3 linked regions of the Homo sapiens genome follow. The protein of the gene in region 3 purifies or fractionates together with the protein of the main gene of each other region. This does not show direct contact. Each region holds a gene or a part of one and is shown on either strand. Other genes may lie near its edges.

Region 1 (3,731 bases), on a different chromosome or scaffold from region 3:
CTGGCTAGATTTTTTTTTTATTTCAATAATGTCAAGTTTCTTTTTTTTTTTTTTTTGAGATGAAGTCTCACTCTGTCACCAGGCCAGAGTGCAGTGGCACAATCTTGGCTCACTGCAACCTCCACCTCCCAGGTTCAAGCAATTTTCCTGCCTCAGCCTCCCGAGTAGCTGGGACTACAGGTGCACGCCACCACGCCTGGCTAATTTTTGTATTTTTTTTATTAGAGATGGGGTTTCACCATATTGGCCAGGGTGGTCTCAAACTCCTGACCTTGTGATCCACCTGCCTCAGCCTCCCAAAGTGCTAGGATTACCGGCGTGAGCCACCACGCCCAGCCTCTTTTTTTTTTTTTTTTTTTTTTTTGAGACGGAATCTTGCTCTGTTGCCCAGGCTGGAGTGCAGTGGCACAATCTCAGCTCACTGTAACCTCCGCCTCCGGGGTTCAAGCAATTCTCCCTGCCTCAGCCTCCCAAGTAGCTGGGATTACAGGCACCCACCACCATGCCCAGCTAATTTTTGTATTTTTTAGTAGAGATGGGGTTTCGCCATGTTGGCTAGGCTGGTCTTGAACTCCTGACCTCAGATTATCTGCCCACCTTGGCCTTCTAAAGAGCTGGGATTACAGGTGTTAGCCACCGTGCCTGGCCATTAATGTCTACTTCCTATTTGGATTTTAAAATGTTGTTACCTACTTCTTCAATCAACTCTTAGCTCATTAATATTCAACCTTTCTTCTTTGCTCATCTAAGATTGGATGAACCTCTAAATATTGCCTTCACTATATCCCAAAACTTTTCAGGGGTAGTATTTTCCTCATTATTCAGTTCTAAGTGTTTTTAAGTTTCTTTATAAATTCTTCTTTGACCCATGTGTTGTTTACATAGGAATGCTTTTAAATGTCCACATTTATGGGGATTTTATGTTCAGCTTTTGTGTACTTATTTCTAATTTAAAAGCAGTGGGAATACTGGGAAATCATCTTTATCCCAAGAGAAAAAAAGGTGAGAGCCATGATTCTCTTTCCCAGTATCTGGTTCTGGCATGACACAACTTAACTCTCACCCCAAACAACTCTAAAACTAGACAAAATACAGGAACTCACCATTTCCAGCACAGGACTAATGAGAGTGAATGGCAGAGGGCTGTTTCCTGAGCAAAGGAAAGCATGTGAGCACCACATTCACCCTGACCTTCTGCCTGGGGGCATTTTCCCAAACCACAGCAAAGGGAAACAGAGCCCAAGCAGAAAGTGGCAGTCTCATTGGGCAGCAACAGAGTTTAGGTGACAGGAATTTGGGGACAGAGGACCAGAGAGGAAGGAGCCACACAGAAGTCCAAGGAATCTAGGTGTCTGCCTCAGGTCCTTGGTTGAGGCCTAAGCTGTCCGTGGTGTGGGACAAGTACCGGGAGGCCTTAAAGAGAACAGTCGCTGTGAAGGTGGGGGAGAGGGCTCTGAGAGAGACACAGATGCCAGAGGTCTCACAGTGCTGGAGACAATGGAGTTCCAACCCAGCAAGGGGGACAGACCTTGGCAAGCACCCGGAGCACTCACCTGAGACCCTACAAAAGCCAAGTCTTAGGAAAAATGGTGTTACCCAAGAAAAAGACTCACAATGGAACATTCCAATCCTAACTATGACACACACACAAAAACCCTTAATAGGATAAAAGATCTGCTAGTAATTTAATCTTTGCTAGAAAAATTTCAACACCATTTAGAGGACAGTAATAGAAGTCTCCATGATATAGCATCCATAATATCCAACATACAATAAAAAATTACTATAGGCTGGGTGCAGTGGCTCAGCTCATGGCTATAATCCCAGCACTTTGAGAGGCCAAGGTGGGCAGATCACTTAAGCCCAGGAGTTCGAGACCAGCCTGGGCAACATGGCGAAACCCCATTTCTACAAAAAATACAAAAATTAGTCAGGCATAGTGGTGCATGCCTGTAGTCCCAGCTACTAGGGAGGCTAAGGTGGGAGGATGGCTTGAGCCCAAGAGGTGGAGGTTGCAGTGAGCTATGACTGAGCCACTGCACTCCAGCCTGGGTAACAAAGCAACACCCTGTCTCAGGAAAAAACAGAAAACTATTTGTAAAGGGGCCTGAAAATTTTACCCATAATCAAGGGATAAATGTCAACAGAAGCAGATCCACAAATGACTCAAATGTTGGAATTAGCAGAAAATGATTTTATAATAACTATTATAAAAATGTTAATCTTAAAAAAGAGACAAAATAGGTGAAAAGATGAAAAAGTCCAGCAGAGAAATGGGAAAAAAGAATAAAATGGAAGTTGAAAAATATCTAAAATAGAACATTCATTAGATGGGCTTAAGAGCAGATTGGACATAGGAGGAGAAAAGATCAGAGAATTCCAAAACAGGTCAGTTTGGAAGAGTGGGAAAGCCTGTGACCATGCACATATACTGAGACCAGTTAGCAAGGTTGTGTGAATGTCTTCAGGGGCTCAGAGGGTGAGTTCAGAACAGGCAGAGGGCTGGGTCCAACTAGGATTAGTGTTCTGCAAGCTATAACCTAGTGAGAAAAGGGCAATGGAGTTAAAGATGTTTGAACTAAGGTAGTTATTGACTATAGAATCTAGGCTAAGAGGGAAATGAGAGAACAAAGAGAATATTGAATAATGAAGAAATGGTGGGGTCAGCAGACTTTGTGTGCCTACGTGAGCCAATGCATCAACTGTTGGACTGAGGCTGTAGAGCCTTGCTACTAAAATGTGGTCCCAGGGCCAGGAGCATCAGCACCACCTGAAGCTTGTGCTAATTCCCAGGCCCTACCCTACATGTACTGAGTCAGAATCGCTGGGGCTAGGGCTCAGAAAACTGTGTTCACAAACCCTTTTGTTGATTCTGATGCTTGTTAAAGCTTGAGAACCATTCTTCCAGAGTAAGAGAGCTGCAAAGACTGGGGGACAGCGCAGAGTGGGATGCTTGAAATGGTTACAGCAATCACAAGGTCTGAAATACAGCTAGGGGGATGAGAAACTGTGACCAAGTGGAAGAAAAAATCATTAGGAAGACACAACAATCCAGGTGGGGTGCAGTGGCTCATGCCTGTAATCCCAGCACTTTGGGAGGCTGAGGTGGACGGATCATTTGAGGTCAGGAGTTCGAGATCAGCCTGGTCAACGTGGTGAAACCCTGTCTCTATCGAAAAAATATAAAAATTAGCCAGGCATGGTGGTTCACACCTGTAGTCCCAGCTGAGGTGGGAGAATCCCTTGAACCCAGGAGGCAGAGGTTGCAGTGAGCTGAGATAACTCCACTGCACTCCAGCCTGGGCAACAGAATGAGACCCTGTCTCAAAAAAAAAAGATACAATGGTCCAGGAAGTAAGTGACTGGACTCTTAGTCGAATCATCCACATGGATGCTAAATTTGCATGATAATAAGACAGAAAGATAATGAGCCAGAAGCTGAAGTTTTCAGTGAAGGGCATAACACAGAGAAGAGCAGACAACTGCTGCCAGGAAGGTTCCTAAGCAGTATAGTCTGACAGTCTGCCCTTTCAAAGAGGGCTTAAGAGAGAAAGGAAGAGAAAGAGTTTGAAATTAGCAAAGGGAGTCACCTCTGACAATCTTTTTTTTTCCTGTTTATAGAGATGGGGTCTTGCTATGTTGGCTAGGTTGGTCTCAAAGTCCTAGCTTTAAGCCATCCTCCTGCCTCGGTCTCCCAAAGCATTGGGATTACAGGTGTGAGCCAGTGCGCC
Region 2 (3,731 bases), on a different chromosome or scaffold from region 3:
AAAATTAAGTGAAGCCCATGTTTCCAATTCCCAAATCAATTCCCAAACCAGCCCACGCTGGTAGAAAGAACATTGGTTTGGGAACTGGAAACAGATCTCTCTACCTCTTCCTGCCCCTCAGGAAGGGCTAGGGCTATGCTAAGCATTTGGAGAGCCTCAAGGACATGGCCAGGATGACTTTTAGCCTTCTGACTGGCACTACACCATGGTGGCGTGTGTAACTGAAATACAGACACAAAAAGAGAAGACCTTCATCATGAGTTCAGTCTTGGACATGATGAGGAAATGAGGTATTCTGTGAGAACCCCAACTGGAGGTACTGAATGTACAGTGAATATACTGACTTGAGAACTCAGAAGAACCTGCCTAAAGTGCCCAAACTAGACCTGCAGCCTCATCGGATCATGTTGTAAATTCAAGTAGATATAACAAGCTGATTTCCTAAAGCCCAAGCCAAACTGGTAAAGCACAAGAAGATAATAAGGAATGTCTTTAAGAAAGAGAATCCTGGCCAGGCCCGGTGGCTCACACCTGGAATCTCAGCACTTTGGGAGGCTGAGGCAGGCAGATCATAAGGTCAAGAGCTTGAGAGCAGCCTGGCCAATAAGGTGAAACCCCGTCTCTATTAAAAAATACAAAAATTAGCCAGGCACGGTGGCGGGCGCCTGTAGTCCCAGCTACTCAGGAGGCTGAGGCAGGAGAATCACTTGAACCCGGGAGGCGGAGGTTGCAGTGAGCTGAGATTGCGCCACTGCACTCCAGCCTGGGCAACACAGTGAGACTCCGTCTGAAAAAAAAAAAGAAAGAAAAAGAAAAAGAATCCTTCTCCTAATCACTCTGAGACAAGAAATATGTCTGCCTGTTCTACCACAAATTTCAGGTCATTATCTTCTACATGAATCCCTAAATATAAAGAACAAACAAGTAATTTAACATAGCAACAAATAAAAATTATACAGGGAGACAGCACATGGTATACTATCTGGAGAGCATTACCTGTGACACTCAAGCTAGGTTGTGAGTACAAAGGAGATTTATTATTTAAATTGTATACATTTCATATGCTCTTTTAAGTGTTGGCAGTAGTTCCAATAAAAAAGTTAAAATCAAAGACTTAGTCAAAGTTTCCTACAACTCCAAATGACCTCCATCAAGTGATTTTTCACTGCTAAAAGAGGCAAGTTCAAAGCATCCTTTTCCCACAAACACTATGCTGTCCTCTCCTCTAAATTCCTGCTCATATGACTGCACCTAGAATGGATATTTTCCTCTTCTCTATCCATTTTCTAACCATCCTTCAGGTTCTAGCTCAAGGTCCACTTCCAACTAAAAGGTCTTCTTTGACAAAATCCAGCTTCCACAAATCTCTTTGTTAATGGCAATATTTCTTATGGTCTGAACTTCTCATGAAACTCATTTCCATATTGTTTTGATTTGCTACCTGAATTTACAGGTGCTTCTACACTAGTATAGAAGAGTACTGGATTTGGAACCAGAAAATGTGGATTCCAATGCCCCAGCTACAGATCTCTGACAAGATTCTTTTACCACTCTGAGCTTCAGTCTTTTCACCTATAGATTACCTCAAATCTGTAAGGACCAAATTGGCACAAGAAATGTGAATTAAGGCCAGGCGCAGTGGCTCACACCATAATCCTAACACTTTGGGAGGCCGAGGCGGGTGGATCACCTGAGGTCAGGAGTTTGAGACCACCCTGGCCAACATGGTGAAACCCCGTCTCTACTAAAAATACAAAAATTAGCCGGGCGTGGTGGTGAGCACCTGTAGTCCCAGCTGCTTGGGAGGCTGAGGTGGGAGAATCATTTGAACCCGGGAGGCAGAGACTGCAGTGAGCCGAGATCGCACCACTGCACTCCAGCCTGGGCGACAGAGTGAGACTCCGTCTCAAAACAAAAAAAAAGAAATGCGAATTAAGTACCATTCAAACCACACATCAGTGTTCAGGAGATATTTATGGCTTTGGCTGTTTGGTGGATTTCTAATCTATACTATAGGGCCATAGAAGCCAGAAACTGATTCATACATAATAAGAGAGGGAATGAGATGTTTCCTAAGTACATTTCTAGATAACTGAAGCTTATCTCTTTAACTGCTACAATCATTTAGGGTTTGGGGTTTTTTTACTCCCATTTTGGATGAAAACCTCTGTAGAATATAAATTATAAATTCCCTTCATAGACATAAGACACAAAACATCTTTTAACCTTTCAGTTATAATTAGGATCAGCATTATGGATTAAAATTACTCTAATGAAGTATATATAGTGACTCACTAAGCTGATATGCAAAGAGTTAATTATTGTGGTTTTCACTTTATGCTTGTTTTTGCACTTCTTCTCTTTCTACCCCCCCATCAAATTATTAACACATATCTCTAATAACTCTATTCCACATTTACTTGCTACACCCAATTCTTTTTCTTTTTTCTTTTTTTGAAATGGAGTCTCACTCTGTCACCCAGGCTGGAGTGCAGTGGCGTGATCTTGGCTCACTGCAACCTCCGCCTCCCGGGTTCAAGCAATTGTCCTGCCTCAGCCTCCTGAGTAGCTGGGATTACAAGCGTGCACCACCACACCCGGCTAATTTTTGTATTTTTAGTAAGACGGAGTTTCACCATGTTGATCAGGCTGGTCTTGAACTCCTGACCTCGTGAACCGCCCGCCTTGGCCTTCCAAAGTGCTGGGATTACAGGCATGAGCCACTGTGCCCGGCCTACTTGCTACACCTAATTCTGAGAAACCAGGTAACACTAGGTCTGTTTTGCTGCACGAGTTCTGGATACAATTTGGTGATTTTGAACATAGCTATCAATCACTCAGCTTTTTCCAGGCTGAGTGGTGGATAGCTACGTTCAAAATCACCAAAGTGGCTGGATAAATCAAAGTTCTTACTTTGATTTAAACCATACTTCTTTTGTAGATCATCTCATACTAGCCAGACCCTCTATATAGGAGCTCAAGATTCCTGAGGAACTCAAACTGCAAGCTCTATTGGCGACACACTGGCACAGATCGATAATATTATCTTCACAATGGATAATAATCACCATGAAGCAATGCTGTGCCAGAAACTTTAATAAAGTATTTGTAATTTAAAGCCACCCCTGGGAGCAAACCACTCCTGGGAGCCATTCTTAAGTACAGTATCAAAACTTACCTGCAAGCCGGGAATGGTGGCTCACGCCTGTAAACCCAGCACTTTGGGAGGCTGAGGTGGGAGGATCACTTAAGGTCAGGAGTTTGGGACCAGCCTGGCCAACATGGAGAAACCCCACATCTAGTAAAAATACAAAAATTAGCCAAGTGTGGTAGCACACGCCTGTAATCCCAGCTACTAGGGAGGCTGAAGCAGAAGAATTGCTTGAACCCATGGGGCAGAGGTTGCAGTGAGCTGAGATCGCGCCATTGTACTCCAGCCTGGGTGACAGAGCAAGACTCTGTCTCAAAAAAAATTAATTAATTAATTAGTTAAAAACTTACCTGAAATAAAATTAAACAGATTTCCAGATTTGCTGCTTTGCCATTAAAGATCTTTATGTACAGCGCTCACACCTATAATCCTAGCACTTTGGGAGGCTGAGGCAGGCAGACCACTTGAGCCCAGGAGTTTCAGACCAGCCTGGGCAACATGGCAAAACTCCATCTCTACAAAAAAATTAGCTGGACATGTTGGCATGCAACTGTAGTCCCAACTACTTGGGAGGCTGAGG
Region 3 (3,500 bases):
ATCATCTTCCCCTCCTTTCTCCACCCAATCGCTGTCTACAGAAATGCTAGGATACAATTAAATGTCAGTTCCTCTTCAAAATTATCCAAAATTTCCCAAGCTCCTTCAGTCAAGCCATCACACACTTGTAGGTGGCAGGCATCTTGTAACTCTGCTATTTTTTTTAAAAAAAGCTCATCTCTCCAAGTAGACAGAATGCTCCCTGAGGACACAGAATGCACCAAATCATCTTTAGACATCACATAGAACATAACACTGCTTTTCACAGGTGCCAAACTATACAGAAAATGTTGGCTTAATTGAACTGAATTTCTTAACAACCTGTTCAGAAGACGCAGCAAGGTCAGCAGTCAGGTTCCTACATTCCCATACAAAAAGGTCTTTAAGCACAGGCATAGGAAGGAGGGTTTCATTGAAAAAAAAATTTTTTGCAGAAACTTTAATGTGCCATTTTAAACCAAAATAATCAGAATCTTCTCTTAAACCATAAGGCATTTGTCCATACTAAATCCCTAGGCCTCTTATACATCATAATGTGAAAGCCGAACATTTACTAACAGTAGCTATAATGTCTGAAAAGCAGATCATTCACTGTGCCAGTCATAATTTATTTATTCAGAAGTGTATCTTATTTCAGAAGGAGTCAATGAAACTTACATAAATACATATAATACAAGCTAAAATGACATATCTAAGAGAAGAGAAAAATGGTGATATGGTTTGGCTGTGTCCCCACCCAAATCTCATCTTGAATTCACAAATATTGTGGGAGGGACCCAGTGAGAGGTAATTTGAAACATTGGGGCAGGTCATTCTCATACTGTTCTCATGATAGTGAATAAGTCTCACAAGATCTGATAATTATATAAGGGGAAGTTTCCCTCCACAAGCTCTCTTCTTCTCCGGTCTGCCACCATGTGAGATGCACCTTTCACCTTCAGCCATGACTGTGAGGCTTCCCCAGCCACGTGGAACTATAAGTCCATTAAACCTCTTTCTTTTGTAAATTTCCCAGCCTTGGGTATGTCTTTATCAGCAGCATGAAAACGGGCTAATACAAATGGGATAAAGGAAAATTGAGTGTAGGAAAGATAAACTGTCCTAGGAGTGAGGTTCATGTACCAGATGAATGTATTCCATAAAAGTCTGCACATTTGCTAGAGGTAGGTCAGGCGTTTGGCTCTTAATACTTGTAGCAGCCAACAAACCCAGGATGGCCCAATCAGTTACATAATTCAGCATCCTTAAGATAAATAGGTAATAGAGTACTATTTCTCCCTTGGTCCTCATTAAAATGACACTATATAATATAATAAATGATTTCCTCAACAACATTCTTGCAGTTATTTCTCAGAGCTAAGGAGACTATTCCTCCAAACAACCCTCACAGGCAAATGACAGCAAACAATTCAATAAAAGCAAATGATGGAGAGGAAAGCAGGAGGGCCAAGCAAGGGGTTCAGATACACAGTTCCTTGCAGAGCTAGATGCATCAAAAACAGATTTTATTCTATCTAGACTAATCTGAAATTCAGAGGCTTCATGCATCCACTTGTCTCTGAAACTACAAAGAAAATTTGATATGCATGTCCTTTTTTCTGGGGAATATGTCTGTAGTTTCATAACATTCTCAAAGAGCAGCATGACTCAAGAAAAGTTAAGAACCACTGATCTAAAGAATAAGACTATATATATATTCTTCAGGCAACCCTCCATAAGGAGTTTATTTTCTGAGCTTCTGAGAAGTGCTGAGCCTCAAGACTGCAGTCCCTGGCAAGCGCTTGAAGTATGGCTTCTCCCTCATGCAAAATGTGGAACTCTGGGCTTTAACCACTGGCCAAGCTGTGTGTCAATTATCAAGATACATAAGACCTTTAATAGAGTAGTGCTCATGAACATATGGAGCACATAACAATCTATTCTTCTAGCTAGGCTTCAGCCATGAACATTGATAGAGGTGCCAAAGGATTTGGTGATATTTCTTCTAGATGGTATTAAAAAAAAAAAACAAAAAAAAAACCACCTTTTGCCTGTAGATAAAAATTACAAGTAAGCACAAAAACAATGATTTTCCTAGACAAAAATCATTTTTATCTTAAAATAATCTTTCTACATCAATTTATATAACGAGCTCCTTTTTACCTTTTTGTTGTTTTAATCTTGTTATATAAGAAGACAATCACTGCCATACCTTTAGACACATACACACACTGTGAACCATCCACACACAGTATCATGGTTAGAATCAAGGGAGGAAGCTGGCCTGTAGGACCACTGAGATAAGGCTCTTTAAAATCTCATCCATCTAGAAGAAGCCACAGCCCTAGAGAGTCTGGTCCTCAGCATAAAAAGTCCAGAGACATATCTTTGCCGAAGAATTCACAGTTAAATATGCTCAAGAGAACTAACTCATGGTAACCCAAATCATAAGAGGCTGAAGTACAAATCAGAATACCAATTTCTTAATTAATCATAGAGAATATTCCTTTTGACTAGTAAGAAAATTTACACCTAAAGCCATGACACACTTTTCTCAAATATCTGGATAACTGAAATCCTGAATTAGTAATCAGGAGTCCACTGAAAGTTAGAACCTTGAGATATAGAGAGTTTGGGGGATAGCTAATAAATTATCCCTGCACTACATACATCTTCATAGAGATAAAAGTTGTGGCTCACACAGGAAGAGTCTCTCTCCCTTGAATAGTGCTGCCCCAGCACTGCAGACTTCTTGGTCTTCTTGGCCTTTCCTCTTCCATATCCTTCTCTCCTTTAGGTACTTCTCTAGACAGGGTATAATACAACTGATGAAGGTGCACCTTACAGGCATTATTATCCCTATTTTTTAGATAATAAACTCCCAGATAAAGCTGTTTCAGCAACTTGTCCAATGTCGCAGCTAGAATAAAGCAGAGCACAGATTCAAAGCCAGATCTCAAGTCAAAACCTATGCTGCTAATCTTGAAGTAAACAATACCTTCAAGGCGTTTTTTCCTGGGCCTTCCTACCTACCAGTCTGATTTAAATGTCCCTCCTCTGTGTCACCGTAACACTCTAAGCGCACCATGACTATAATTTTTGGTGTAGAGGTCTATCTCTCTCACTAGACTGAAACTTTTTGAGGATAGGGGTTATATTTCATTCACCCTTGTATCCCCAGGGCACCATCTATCTAGGTAAATATTCAAGCCAATTTGTCCAGTGGTTTCATATAGAGATCAACAAACTGAAGGCCTTGAACTAGCCACATAGCCTTAGGAAGGTCACAACTTCTCCAGCTATCAGCATCTCAGCTTAAAAGAAAAAAAAAGGGTGAGGGATGAAATTGATATACACAGATGAAATGGATGTACAAGGATATACAAGGTAATGTCTCCTCTGCATCTAAAGAGTACTACAATTACAGACGGGCCCTAGTTTTTGATGGTCTATCTTACTAGTGTGAGTTATTAGAAATAAAATTAAACTCCTCATTTATCGTCTGCACCATTCTAGAGCTA

What was found.
Region 1: the proteins of PPM1L (region 3) and TDRD10 purify together in Homo sapiens (affinity purification with mass spectrometry; one large-scale study listed by BioGRID and IntAct). This does not show direct contact.
Region 2: the proteins of PPM1L (region 3) and TTC27 purify together in Homo sapiens (co-immunoprecipitation; one large-scale study listed by IntAct). This does not show direct contact.

Annotation. Positions count from the first base shown.
Region 1 is NC_000001.11:154,522,529-154,526,259, reverse strand, and holds part of TDRD10 (tudor domain-containing protein 10), read right to left. Parts: intron 1-3,731.
Region 2 is NC_000002.12:32,634,409-32,638,139, reverse strand, and holds part of TTC27 (tetratricopeptide repeat protein 27), read right to left. Parts: intron 2,886-3,731; exon of another isoform or gene 2,809-2,885; intron 1-2,808.
Region 3 is NC_000003.12:160,759,231-160,762,730, reverse strand, and holds part of PPM1L (protein phosphatase 1L), read right to left. Parts: intron 1-3,500. UniProt on the Homo sapiens protein: Acts as a suppressor of the SAPK signaling pathways by associating with and dephosphorylating MAP3K7/TAK1 and MAP3K5, and by attenuating the association between MAP3K7/TAK1 and MAP2K4 or MAP2K6.